Linked DNA regions of Homo sapiens. The protein of the gene in region 2 interacts with the protein of the main gene of each other region in a biochemical or structural test. Each region holds a gene or a part of one and is shown on either strand. Other genes may lie near its edges. The genes, in order: ERBB4, ABL2 and SORBS2.

Evidence for each region.
Region 1: the proteins of ABL2 (region 2) and ERBB4 form a complex in vitro, tested with the Homo sapiens proteins (2 studies listed by BioGRID and IntAct, with this or other methods).
Region 3: the proteins of ABL2 (region 2) and SORBS2 form a complex in vitro, tested with the Homo sapiens proteins (one study listed by BioGRID).

What each region holds. Positions count from the first base shown.
Region 1 is NC_000002.12:212,532,203-212,535,955, reverse strand, and holds part of ERBB4 (receptor tyrosine-protein kinase erbB-4 isoform JM-a/CYT-1 precursor), read left to right. Parts: intron 1-3,753. UniProt on the Homo sapiens protein: Tyrosine-protein kinase that plays an essential role as cell surface receptor for neuregulins and EGF family members and regulates development of the heart, the central nervous system and the mammary gland, gene transcription, cell proliferation, differentiation, migration and apoptosis.
Region 2 is NC_000001.11:179,222,967-179,226,719, reverse strand, and holds part of ABL2 (tyrosine-protein kinase ABL2), read left to right. Parts: intron 1-3,753. UniProt on the Homo sapiens protein: Non-receptor tyrosine-protein kinase that plays an ABL1-overlapping role in key processes linked to cell growth and survival such as cytoskeleton remodeling in response to extracellular stimuli, cell motility and adhesion and receptor endocytosis.
Region 3 is NC_000004.12:185,588,444-185,592,196, reverse strand, and holds part of SORBS2 (sorbin and SH3 domain-containing protein 2), read left to right. Parts: intron 1-120; exon of another isoform or gene 121-292; intron 293-2,411; coding exon 2,412-2,518; intron 2,519-2,967; exon of another isoform or gene 2,968-3,043; intron 3,044-3,753. UniProt on the Homo sapiens protein: Adapter protein that plays a role in the assembling of signaling complexes, being a link between ABL kinases and actin cytoskeleton. Can form complex with ABL1 and CBL, thus promoting ubiquitination and degradation of ABL1.

The DNA.
Region 1 (3,753 bases), on a different chromosome or scaffold from region 2:
AGTGGCATATTTTTGAAATGCTAATTTCTTAAGCAGAAGGAATGCACCTTATTTACTGCTCTATGTGAACAGAATAAAAATATAGGGCGGGGGATGCTGTTGTATAGATCTTTAAGATATTTCTTAATTGTAACAGAAGAGAACCTCTTTTTTCTTTTGCTTGGAAAAAAATTCAGCATTAGAGAGGATGTTTTTTAGAAATTCTAAAGGACTTTGTCTCATTTTCAATTATGCATTTTATTTAGATATATCTAGATATAGCCAAAGTCCCTTTATATGGCAATTATAAAGCCTTTGCTAACCAAAGGAATGGTTCTAAAATTCGTCTTCCTTGTATAATGGAAAATTATCAATATTGCCTTGGTATTGAAGAAAATGTATAGTAGCATTGAGGTGGTACTCTTATATACCTTAGTAGATAAACGATGAACAAGTTCAGTTCCCATTTCTTTTTTGCAGGTAACTCAGTCTTGCTTTTCATTCTATAAAAGTACATATAGCTTTCGTACATATTTAAGATACATCATTATATCTCCAAAATCATGGGGTTATTTTTCATTTGAGAAGAAAAATGTTAATAAAAGTTAAGTGGTGAAAAAGGTGTTAAATATATTTTCAAGAAAGCATCAATTCTCTTTCTTACAAGTGTTTACTGTAAGCACATCTATCGGTACAATGTTTTCTTTTTAATTTGAAATTCTCATATATATATATATAAAAGGGGGCTTTTTAGAAGAAGGTGTTATTTTTTTCTTCACAATATGTCTAAATAAATATCTGTTAGTATAACTGCAAATCGCTTGGAAATACTATAACTGTTCTGTTGTGATGAAATGACTCCAGTTATATCAGTATTCCTTTTTTTTGCTCTTAAACTCAACTGCTTTTATTTATTTTAATCATGTATGCATAGAAAGTGAAATTTTGTTGAAAATCAAGGCACTTACTGCTTTATATATATATTTTCATTTAGTCACTGGAAATGTGTCTTAATTAAGAAATTACATTAGAATATTTATCAGAGCATGAACTTTGTGGAAGATTTATGCATTTTTTATTCTAACCTGAACACAGTAAGTTTGCATTGGCTGATTTTTAGAGTTTGCATTTATTTGATGGAAAATCGTATTTCCTCCTCAAAGTGGATTCAAATATGTAGTATTCATGAGCTTTCATCCCTTTGGTTTTTAAATAGAAGTACTATTTATCATCTGTCTTATGCATTCACCCTTTCTGTTACTATAGATTCTCTCTTTACATCTTAGTATTTATTGAGTTTACATGTGTTAATATATATTTTCCCTTCCGCCACTAAGTATATTGTTTTTGTTTGTGTCTTTCCCAGTAACCTGCCACTCAGCCACTGCAGGAGTCCTCTGAGCCAGTTTTCATTCTTTCTGATAAATCTGATATGGCTGGTTGGCCAGACAATCACAAGCCATTCCATTGCTCAGATTTATTCCTGAAAGAAAATAAAAAGGCATCGATCCAAGATCACTGGCACATCTTAAAAGCCTTGACTCCAAGGCCAAACCTTTCCACAGAGAAGTCCCTCTTACCCTTTTTCTTTCTTTCTTTTCCCCTCTTGACCAAGGAAGGAAGGTGGACCACTGCTATTTAAAAAATGCTAGTGAGGCAATGAATTGTGCTCTTTCTAAGTACTCTTGGAAGCTTGATTAGAGCCACCTTGAGATTAATGGCTATGCACAGTGCATATTTTAGACAATAAATTGAATTAGGATGGCTTAAACATTGCAATGCTTTAAAGCGGTATTATTTTTGTGTTATATCAAGCTGGTTATTAGGAAAAGTTAACATGTTCTTAAAAATAGCCATAAGTTTTGGCTTTATATTATAGTGTTCTGCTACTGTTGGATATCCATGTATAGTTTGTAAGTGCCTAAAACATAAATGAAATAAATGATCAAAACGGATTTTCTGATACCTACAAACTTGTTGGTACTTGCTCTGTTTAATTTTACCAGTTTTGAGAGATACTGCTTTGTTGAGATGCTAATATTTGTACTGAAATTAGTTTTTAGAGGTTCAAGCCTACATCTGTTCTACAGAAATTAATCACCAAGCATATTCCACTGTTATCTTTTACAGTGATCTACTGAGTATCCTGTGCAGGGTAGAATTTAATCATATTAACAACTTTTCTCCAGGTTATATCATTTTAGAGATGCTCTATTATGTTACATTTCACCATATGGAACCAAATTACATGTTTTATCTAATACTCATTTTCTGAAGTATTATAAATATTGGCAGTCAGAGTTAAAACCTTACTTTTTATGATTTCTAATACAGCTATTGACTGGAGTTTTCAGTTTATAATGAAAAATAACCCCTTTTTATGAAAAAATTGTAGGTCAATGTTTCCTGAAACTGTATGTCTTCAACATAATTTGAGGGAGACTTTAATTGCCTATTTTGTGGTTAAATGGGACATGGGACGTAGTCACATTGTTTAAATCAGGATTTCTACCTTGCAGAGACAGTTCTCGAGTTTCTTAATACCTTCAGCAACTCACTGCATCTCTTTGTGACTTGGCTTCTCTGCCTGGGAGAGAAATGCATATAATGCACTATTTCTGCACTGTACAGTTTTATGAAAATAACTTTAAAGTCTTTGATATTGAGATACATTCCACTAAATTGTTTTTATAGATGTAATCTAAATTGCACATGTAATCTAAAACATGTATACCTATATTAAGAAACATAATGTAAACTTTCTAGCAAACTGTCTCTATCAAAAGAGTACCTGTCTAATGAAATAAAGAGCTTATTAACTCAAAGGCATTTGTATTTGAGGGCAATTTCCCCAAAATATTATTTTCAGAATTGTTCTATGGTCTCTTTTATTTTTTCTGAGTTGTTGGTTATTCTGAAATATTTATTAAATAAATTGCCGTATTTTCCAATTCTGTAATCAAGATTTAAGGCCACTTCCTTGTTTTCACACTTGATACTTAAACTAGTGCTTTATATTTATACAAACTTTTCAAGAGAGGAAAGCTGTCCCTTTTACAATATGGAGTTGAAATATGTGGATGTTTTGTTAACTAATTCTAAAGAGGCTATGTAGCATGTAATAATTGTTTTAGAGTTATTTCCATTTTGAATTGTTCTGCAGGCCTGTCACTTTGCACAACTCCAGGGGGCAGCAGCCACATAGACTTTAATAGGAATAGTGCATGCCTTAGCTGTGGGTAGTACAGCAACAGCCTTGCTATTGTGTGATGCTAGCGAATAAAGCACTAAAAGTTAGGAGGTTTGGATTCTGGTCATACAATCATTTGTTATGTGATCTGGGATTAGACTACTTGCTTCTGTCTCAATCGCCTTACCTTTATTAGTGTAGCTAAAAGTCATGCCTAAGCTATTAACATCTTGAATGTTTTTAATAATTCAATTAATTAGAAATGGAAAGTTTAGACTTTTTAGAAAAAAAGTTTATTGGTTTTTAATTATTTTTGTAAGTGGACCTCTTTTTTGTTGTTGTTGTTCCAAGTGAAGTCATAGGCATAGCCCTAGTTTCTAAAACAGCTGAAAGGGTAAAATAAAAAGAGAGCTGTGTAGTTAAGCTGCAGGGAGGAGGCAGCTTTGAGGCCCCTGCCGTTGACATTCCCTCACTTTCCTTTCACTGTTGCCTCTACTCTCCTGCACTGGTGTCATAGAAGTCCGGCACTAGAAACCACTGATGTAATCCAGTCATCTTATGTTTTAGGTAAGGAAACTGACAGC
Region 2 (3,753 bases):
AATAATAGTACCTAGTATTAAATGAATAGTGGCTGGGCACATAGTATGAGCTAAATGTGTGTAGCTGCTGCCATTACTAATACTACTGTTATTATTAAAAACAGGAGTAATTCGGCCAGGTGCGGTGGCTCACGCCTGTAATCCCAGCACTGTGGGAGGCCGAGGTGGGCAGATCATGAGGTCAGGAGTTCGAGACCAGCCTGAGCAACATGGTGAAACCTCGTCTGTACTAAAAATAGAAAAATTAGCTGGGCATGGTGGCACGCGCCTGTAGTCCTAGCTACTCAGGAGGCTGAGACAGGAGAATCGCTTGAACCCGGGAGGTGGAGGTTGCAGTGAGCCAAGATCGCGCCACTCCAGCCTGGGTGACAGAGCGAGACTCTGTCTCAAAAAAAAAAAAAAAAAAAAAGTAGGGATAATTCAAAGATGACACCAGGATTTAGAACCTGGCTAACTGGGATGATGAAGATTCTATTGACAAGTTTGGAAGTTAGAAGCTGATTGAAAAAATGGGAATAGGTCGAGTTTATTGCCAAAGACTAGTATGAAAAGAAAGGAATTAGCAAATAATATAGGAAACAAAGGTGCAGTGAGTACTGTTTTTTAGACAGATGGGTTTAAAAAGTTTTTTTCTGTACATCATAGTTTCTTTTTTTTTTTTTTTTTTTTTTTTTTTGAGGCGGAGTCTCACTCTGTCGCCCAGGCTGGAGTGCAGTGGCGCGATCTCGGCTCACTGCAAGCTCCGCCTCCCGGGTTCACGCCATTCTCCTGCCTCAGCCTCCCGAGCAGCTGGGACTACAGGCACCTGCCACCACGCCCGGCTAATTTTTTTTTGTATTTTTAGTAGAGACAGGGTTTCACCGTGTTAGCCAAGATGGTCTTGATCTCCTGACCTCATGATCCGCCCTCTTCGGCCTCCCAAAGTGCTGGGATTACAGGCATGAGCCACCGCTTCCGGCCACGTCATAGTTTCTTAACCTCGGCGGCATTGATATTTTGGGCTGGCTAATTCTGTGTTTTGGGGGGCTGTCCTGTGCATTGTAGGATGTTTAGCAGCATCCCTGGACTCTACCCACTAGATGCCAGTAGCACCTTCTTTTTGCCCCTTACTTGTTATAAAAATGCCTCCAGACATTGTTAAATCTCTTGGGGGGCAGAATTGCCCCTAGTTGAGGACACCACTTAGAAATGTGATAGATTCTGAATTGAATGAATGAATGAATGAATTAGATTCGAAAGCTTCTCAGTGGATGTATCATTTGACCTTTACATGGTAAATGTAGGTGCTCGAATCTAGTGTACAAATTACTGTCTTGAGTTTGCCATATTGAGGTATTAGCACATAATTTCATATATGAATGTTAGGTCTGTTAGACTCTTGGGTTTACATGTAGGTTTTAATATAAGCCAAATAATACATTTAGTTAATCAGTAAAAAGGTACATACATTATGGAAATGGTTTATCAGAGTCCAGGACTTTTCTTTCTTTAGCTAAAATGGTCATTTTTTATCGTTAATAATATGTGGGTAAGCTGTGATAATAATTTGCCTTGCCAAAAGTGATTTTTGTGAATGTAATTTAGAAGGAACAAAAATAATAGAGCCATTTTTGGTATGAAAGGAGTGAGTGCTGTGTGACTTTTCTGAGATCTGCTATTTTTTTTGTCAACTCTTTTATTTTATGTTTTATTTTAGAGAAAGGTCTTGCTCTGCCACCCAGGCTGGAGTGCAGTGCTGCGATCGTAGATCGCTGCAGCCTTAAACTCCTGGACTCAAGCAATCCTCCTGCCTCAGCCTCCCGAGGAGCTGAGACTACAGGCACACGCCATCACACCTGGGTAATTTTGTGTTTTTTTTTTTTTTTTTGTAGAGACGGAGGTCTCACTATGTTGCTCAGGCTGGTCTCAAACTCCTAGGCTCAGGTGATACTCTGCCTCGGCCTCCCAAAGTGCTGGGATTATAGGCGTGAGCCACTGCGAGAGGCAAGCTCTGCTATTAAACCTTTCTGGTGAGCTGATGTTTCATGACTAATAATCTAGGGTTGAATACTTACTTGCTGTTGAATATCTCACATACCTTTTAACAGCTGAATGATTTTACTTTAGCTTCCCTCTCTCATTTTCTAAAAATTCTATTAAAAATTAACTTTAGGCTGGGCGTGGTGGCTCACACCTATAATCCCAGCACTTTGGGAGGCCGACGTGGGCAGATCACCTGAGGTCAGGAGTTCGAGATCAGCCTGGCCAACATGGTGAAACCCTGTCTCTACTAAAAAAATACAAAAATTAGCCAGGTGTGGTGGCGGGCACCTATAGTCCCAGCTACTCAGGAGGCTGAGACAGGAGAATCCCCTGAACCCCGGAGGCGGAGTTTGCAGTGAGCCGAGATCGCGCACCTGCACTCCAGCCTGGGCGACAGAGCAAGACTCCGTCTCCAAAAAAACCAACAAACAAAAACCCTTACATTATGAAGTTTGGAATAACAAAAATTTTTCCTTAAATCAAACTCATTATTTTAAGTGATCTGATTTATTTATTTATTTTTTATTTTGGATCTGTAGTTTTTTTTTTTTTTTTTTTTTTTTGTAGTGAGTAGGGTCTCACTCTCTTGCCCAGGCTGGAGTGCATTGGCGAGATCATGGCTCACTGCAGCCTTGACCTCCCAGACTCAAGTGATCCTCTCACCTCTCAGCCTCCTGAATACCTGGGACTATAGGTGCACGCCACCATGCCTTTCTATTTTTTTTTTTTTTTTGTAGAGACAGAGTTTTGCCATGTTGCCCATGGTGGTTTTGAACTCCTGGGCTCAAGTGATCTGCCTGCCTTGCCCTCCCAAAGTCCTGAGATTACAGGTGTGAGCCACCGCACCCGGCCAGTAGTTCATGTTTTAATCTTTGTGGAATGAAGGCTGTTGGCACCCCAGGTTGAAAACGATGCTATGGAAAGCACAGGAAGGCTGTTGTGAGGGAATTTTAATTGTGGTGACTTAATATAAGAACTAAACTTCATTTTTTATTTTTATTTATTTTTCTTTTTTTCTTGAGTGCCAATCCTGCAGACTAAACTTTTAAAAAAAAATCAGCTGTTAGATTTTTATTAATCTCCAAATCTGTGTAAGTTATAGATGTGTAGTTGGGGTCCATATTTTTAGCAAAGTAATAAGTTGTGGTACAGATTCTGTTCTCATAGCCCACTTGGCAGTAAAATTCCAAGTAAAGTGATGAAGTCTGAAGTTTCTCTGTAAGGGTCTTCAGCCTGCTTTATTCGATAGTTTATTTATTTACTTAGGTGGTTTTTTTTTTTTTTTGAGACAGGGTCTTGCTCTGTTGCCTAGGCTGGAGTGCTGTGGCATGATGATAGCTCACTGCAGCCTCAAACTCCTGGCTGAAGCCATTCCTGACTCAGCCTTCTGGGTAGCTGGGACTATAGGTGCGTGCTACCATGCCTGGCTAATTTTTAAATTTTTCTGTAGAGATGGGGTCTTGCTGTACTGGGCCAGGCTGGTCTTAAATTCCTAGGCTCAAGTGATTCTCCCACCTTGGCCTCCCAAAGTGCTGGGATTACAGACATGAGGCCCTGCATCTGGACTTTTTTTTTTTTTTTTTTTTTTGAGAGGGAGCCTTGCTCTGTCTCCCAGCCTGGAGTGCAGTGGCGCGATCTTGGCTCACTGCAACCTCCTCCTCCTGGGTTCAAGCAATTCACCTGCCTCAGCCTCCCGAGTAGCTGGGATTACAGGCGGCTGCCACCACACCT
Region 3 (3,753 bases), on a different chromosome or scaffold from region 2:
GTGAAATATGTTCTAGAAAAAGTTGCAAGTTATCGAGAGGGCTTCCAGTCTGGCTCAGCATTTCCTGTTTAAAAGACACCTTTCTTTTTGAGGCATCCTTACCCCACCACCATCACTCACCTCACCAACACATCTTTCACAACAGCATTTTTTAACATTGGATTTGTCTTCATTTCCCATTGTGCAACACTGGCTTTGAAAGCCAGGAGAGGCAGGAGGATTTCCTGAAGGTGTGTTTACGTTTCCATAAAACTCCGTGGGTTTTCTTTTGTTTTGTTTTTGTTTCTGTGGTCTAATTAAACCAGAATGGTAAATAAATTTGGACAAACATGCTGGCTTTCATCAGACAAAAATGAAGCAGGAGTCTGTGCCAATTTTGTTGCGTTAGCTCTGAGACCTTGAGATTCTTTCCAGCAGCTGAGGTTTGCAGCCTTAGGTAACCGGTCTCCATGAGTGGGTGGAGATGAGCCTGGGCAGGGTTCAAGCCTGAGAAGCTCAATAAAAGAATCAGTTTTCCCAAAGTGAGAAATGCCGTGTGTATCCATCAAAACAGCAGCCCAGGAACCACCATCTCTCTCAAATGTGAAACTGGAAAAGGGACCGTGAACTTTCCCCACAGATACACAAAAGATACCACCCCTTCACCTGAGCAGCCTCCAAATCAAATTCTTTACACAAGCAACAAAATAAATGGACTACCCCTAGCAAAGCTGGCCACATGCAAACATCCAAATCAGGTGACGTTTCTGTATTCCACACCTGCCTGTCTTTTTGGCCACTACTCTGGGATGCTAGCTGCCTTTCTCTGCCCTTCCCCATAATCACAAACCCCTCTCTCAAGAAAAGGCCTCAGAAGCCCATGCTCAAAAGGATATAAGTGGCTGTAAGGTCTACTGGAAGGATGAAGTTTTAACAGGAGAAGAAGCCTCTAATGTTGAAATTTCAGGCTTTGGTGCCAGGCCAGGGAAAACAATATTTTCTAGGGGATGTTGTTAGGCATTCTCTGAAGCCAACTCTATCCAGCTCCCCCAGTCCAAATGCTGGATGAACGGGGGGAAGCCAGTAGGTCACTGTTGCTTATTAATGACATAAGATTTGAGTTTAAATGATAGAATAGTTTTGTTCTACCAAAATATTATTTTCTGACTCATAAAGTAATTAAAAATAAATCATTCTTGTTCCGGAGCGGTAGTCAAGATTATCAACTTTTTTAAGTTGGCATGAAAAAATCTAAAATACCCTAGAAAGTGGTAATTATTTTCTCACATTAGCAGAATGACATGACTGTTACAGAAAGCAGCAGAAACAAATTCCCAATTTTTAAAAACCCCCTCACAGTACTGGTAATATTTTAGTACTATTATGAAGAAGTTTTCATGTTAACTGCCTATCAAATTCTTCTTGACCTTCTCAGCTACAGTAATTTCGCCTTCATTTTCCAAAAACACCAGCCCATGTTACTATTTATTATAATGTATGGTGTTTTCTTACCACAAATTCAGTGTCTGAATTCATTATTGATCAATTTCCACCACAGTATATGCTGTCAAAGAATTCAGGCCGGGAAAGGAAAGTGATAGCATTCTATCAATAATTCTTTTTTATATAAAATTATTTCAAGAGAGAGTTTTAAAATCAAATACAATTTTTCTGGGACTCATTTTAAAAAGAGACTTATGTCCATAGTCTGCTTGAAATGGAATCAGTAATAACTGCACATAGAATACATCTACTCAACTTCATAGGCTAATTACATCAAATCTTCCAATTCTACATCCTCAGAAAACACTGATCCAAACCATAACATTAAACTGATCTAAAGAATTCCTCTTAGTAAAAAAAATAATTTTCCTTTGTATAGTAATTCACACAGAGTGATTAAAAAGACATGTCTGACACATTTTGTCTATCTCCATTTAGAACCTTTGAAAATTCAATTCTCAAGCCCCCATTATTTGCTTCTGATTATGGCTAGCTAAAATTGTGATTCCTTCTTGTTTTTAAACAGTTAAATAATACAAATATCACTTATTTTATATTTTGTACTATTATTTAATGTCTAAATGATAGACGTTAGATGGCTGGACAACTGAAATGCGGGTCTGACTTATACATGTTGACATATTTTAATCCAATTTATGAATGTTACAATTTTCATGGATATTCCTCGTGAGTTTCAAAATGTTGTTAGAGTGTTCTAATGCCTGTGAAGATCTACATATTGCTATGTACCTGCTTACCAGGCTTGTACCATCCAATAGAATGCTATTTACATGCTTACCAGGCTTGTACCACCCAACAGAATGTTGTTAAGAATAGGAATGTTAAAGGAAGAATGAATATTGTTCTATCTTCTATATTTCATGAAGGTGTCAAGATGTTTTTAAACACATTCCCTTGTCCTGTTTAAGGTTTCAGGCTCTGTATAACTATACTCCCAGGAATGAAGATGAGCTGGAGCTCAGAGAAAGTGATGTCATTGATGTCATGGAAAAGTGTGATGACGGCTGGTTTGTGGGTATGTGCGCTTCTTCCTCAGGCACCTTCGGCTATTTTGTAATTTGCTTGAGTTTGCTCACTCCCGTGGTTTGCTGTGATGGCCGAGCTTCCTTTGAATTCGTAATGCCTTTGATCTTTCAGACATTCATATGCACAATGTAATCCCAAGGCTATTGCATTTTTAATATAGTTTAGTATTCACTGCTTCAGCTATGTGTGATTTTCTGCGAGCTTTATTTCCAACTCAACTGAGAGAAGACAATTTCTTTAAATAGCAAAAACCAGGAAAGATTGAGATCTAAGAACAACAACAACAAATGGTCCCCAGAAGAGAAATATCAACGCTCTGTGCTGTGGAAAATGTTAGTTGTCCACAGTGAGAATCTAATTTCAGAGGGAGTGAGATTAAGTGAACAGCTCTCCCGTTTCCTAGGTCTGACGTAGATGCCCGAACATTCAGTGACTCACCTTAACTTTAGTTTGTGGTGGAAGCAGAGAGACGTTCCATTCTTCCCACTTAAAAGGCAACTTCATCTTTACCATCCTAAAAAAAAAGACGAGAGGTCTTCTGGGAAAACATTTGTAGACAAAAGTATTTTACACTGGGCCACAGAAAGAGGTGAAAAGGAAACACAGGCTGCAGGGCAGAGAATGGAAGAGAGGAAAGGTGAGAGGAGAGGAGGGCTCACTCTAGACATCCATCGGTGGCAAAATCATGAAAGAATTGAGGCCCTGGTGCGGCCACAAGCCTCTGATTTTATTTCCATTAAAAGAAGAAAAAAAGGCCGGGTGCGGTGGCTCATGCCTGTAATTCTAGCACTTTGGGAGGCCGAGGCGGGTGGATTACCTGAGGCCAGGAGTTCGAGGCCAGCCTGGTCAACATGGTGAAACCCCGTATCTACCAAAAGTACAATAATCAGCTGGGCTTGGTGGCAGGTGCCTGTAATCCCAGCCACTCAGGAGGCTAAGGCAGGAGAATTGCTTGAACCCAAGAGGCAGAGGTTGCAGTGAGCCGAGATCATGCCACTGCACTCCAGCCTGGGCGACAAGAGCGAAACTCCATCTCAAAAACAAGGAGGAGGAGGAGGAGGGAGGAGGAGGAGGGAGGAGAAACGTAAAATGGCTTGCCTAGCCAAGGAAAAAGAAAAACAGCCATCAAACCAAGGCAGTAAGTGCCAGGATATAGGAGACAGATGAAGCTTGAGAGACCCTTATCCGGTCCATCTGCGCTGCCTAAAGAAGAATTTAGCAATT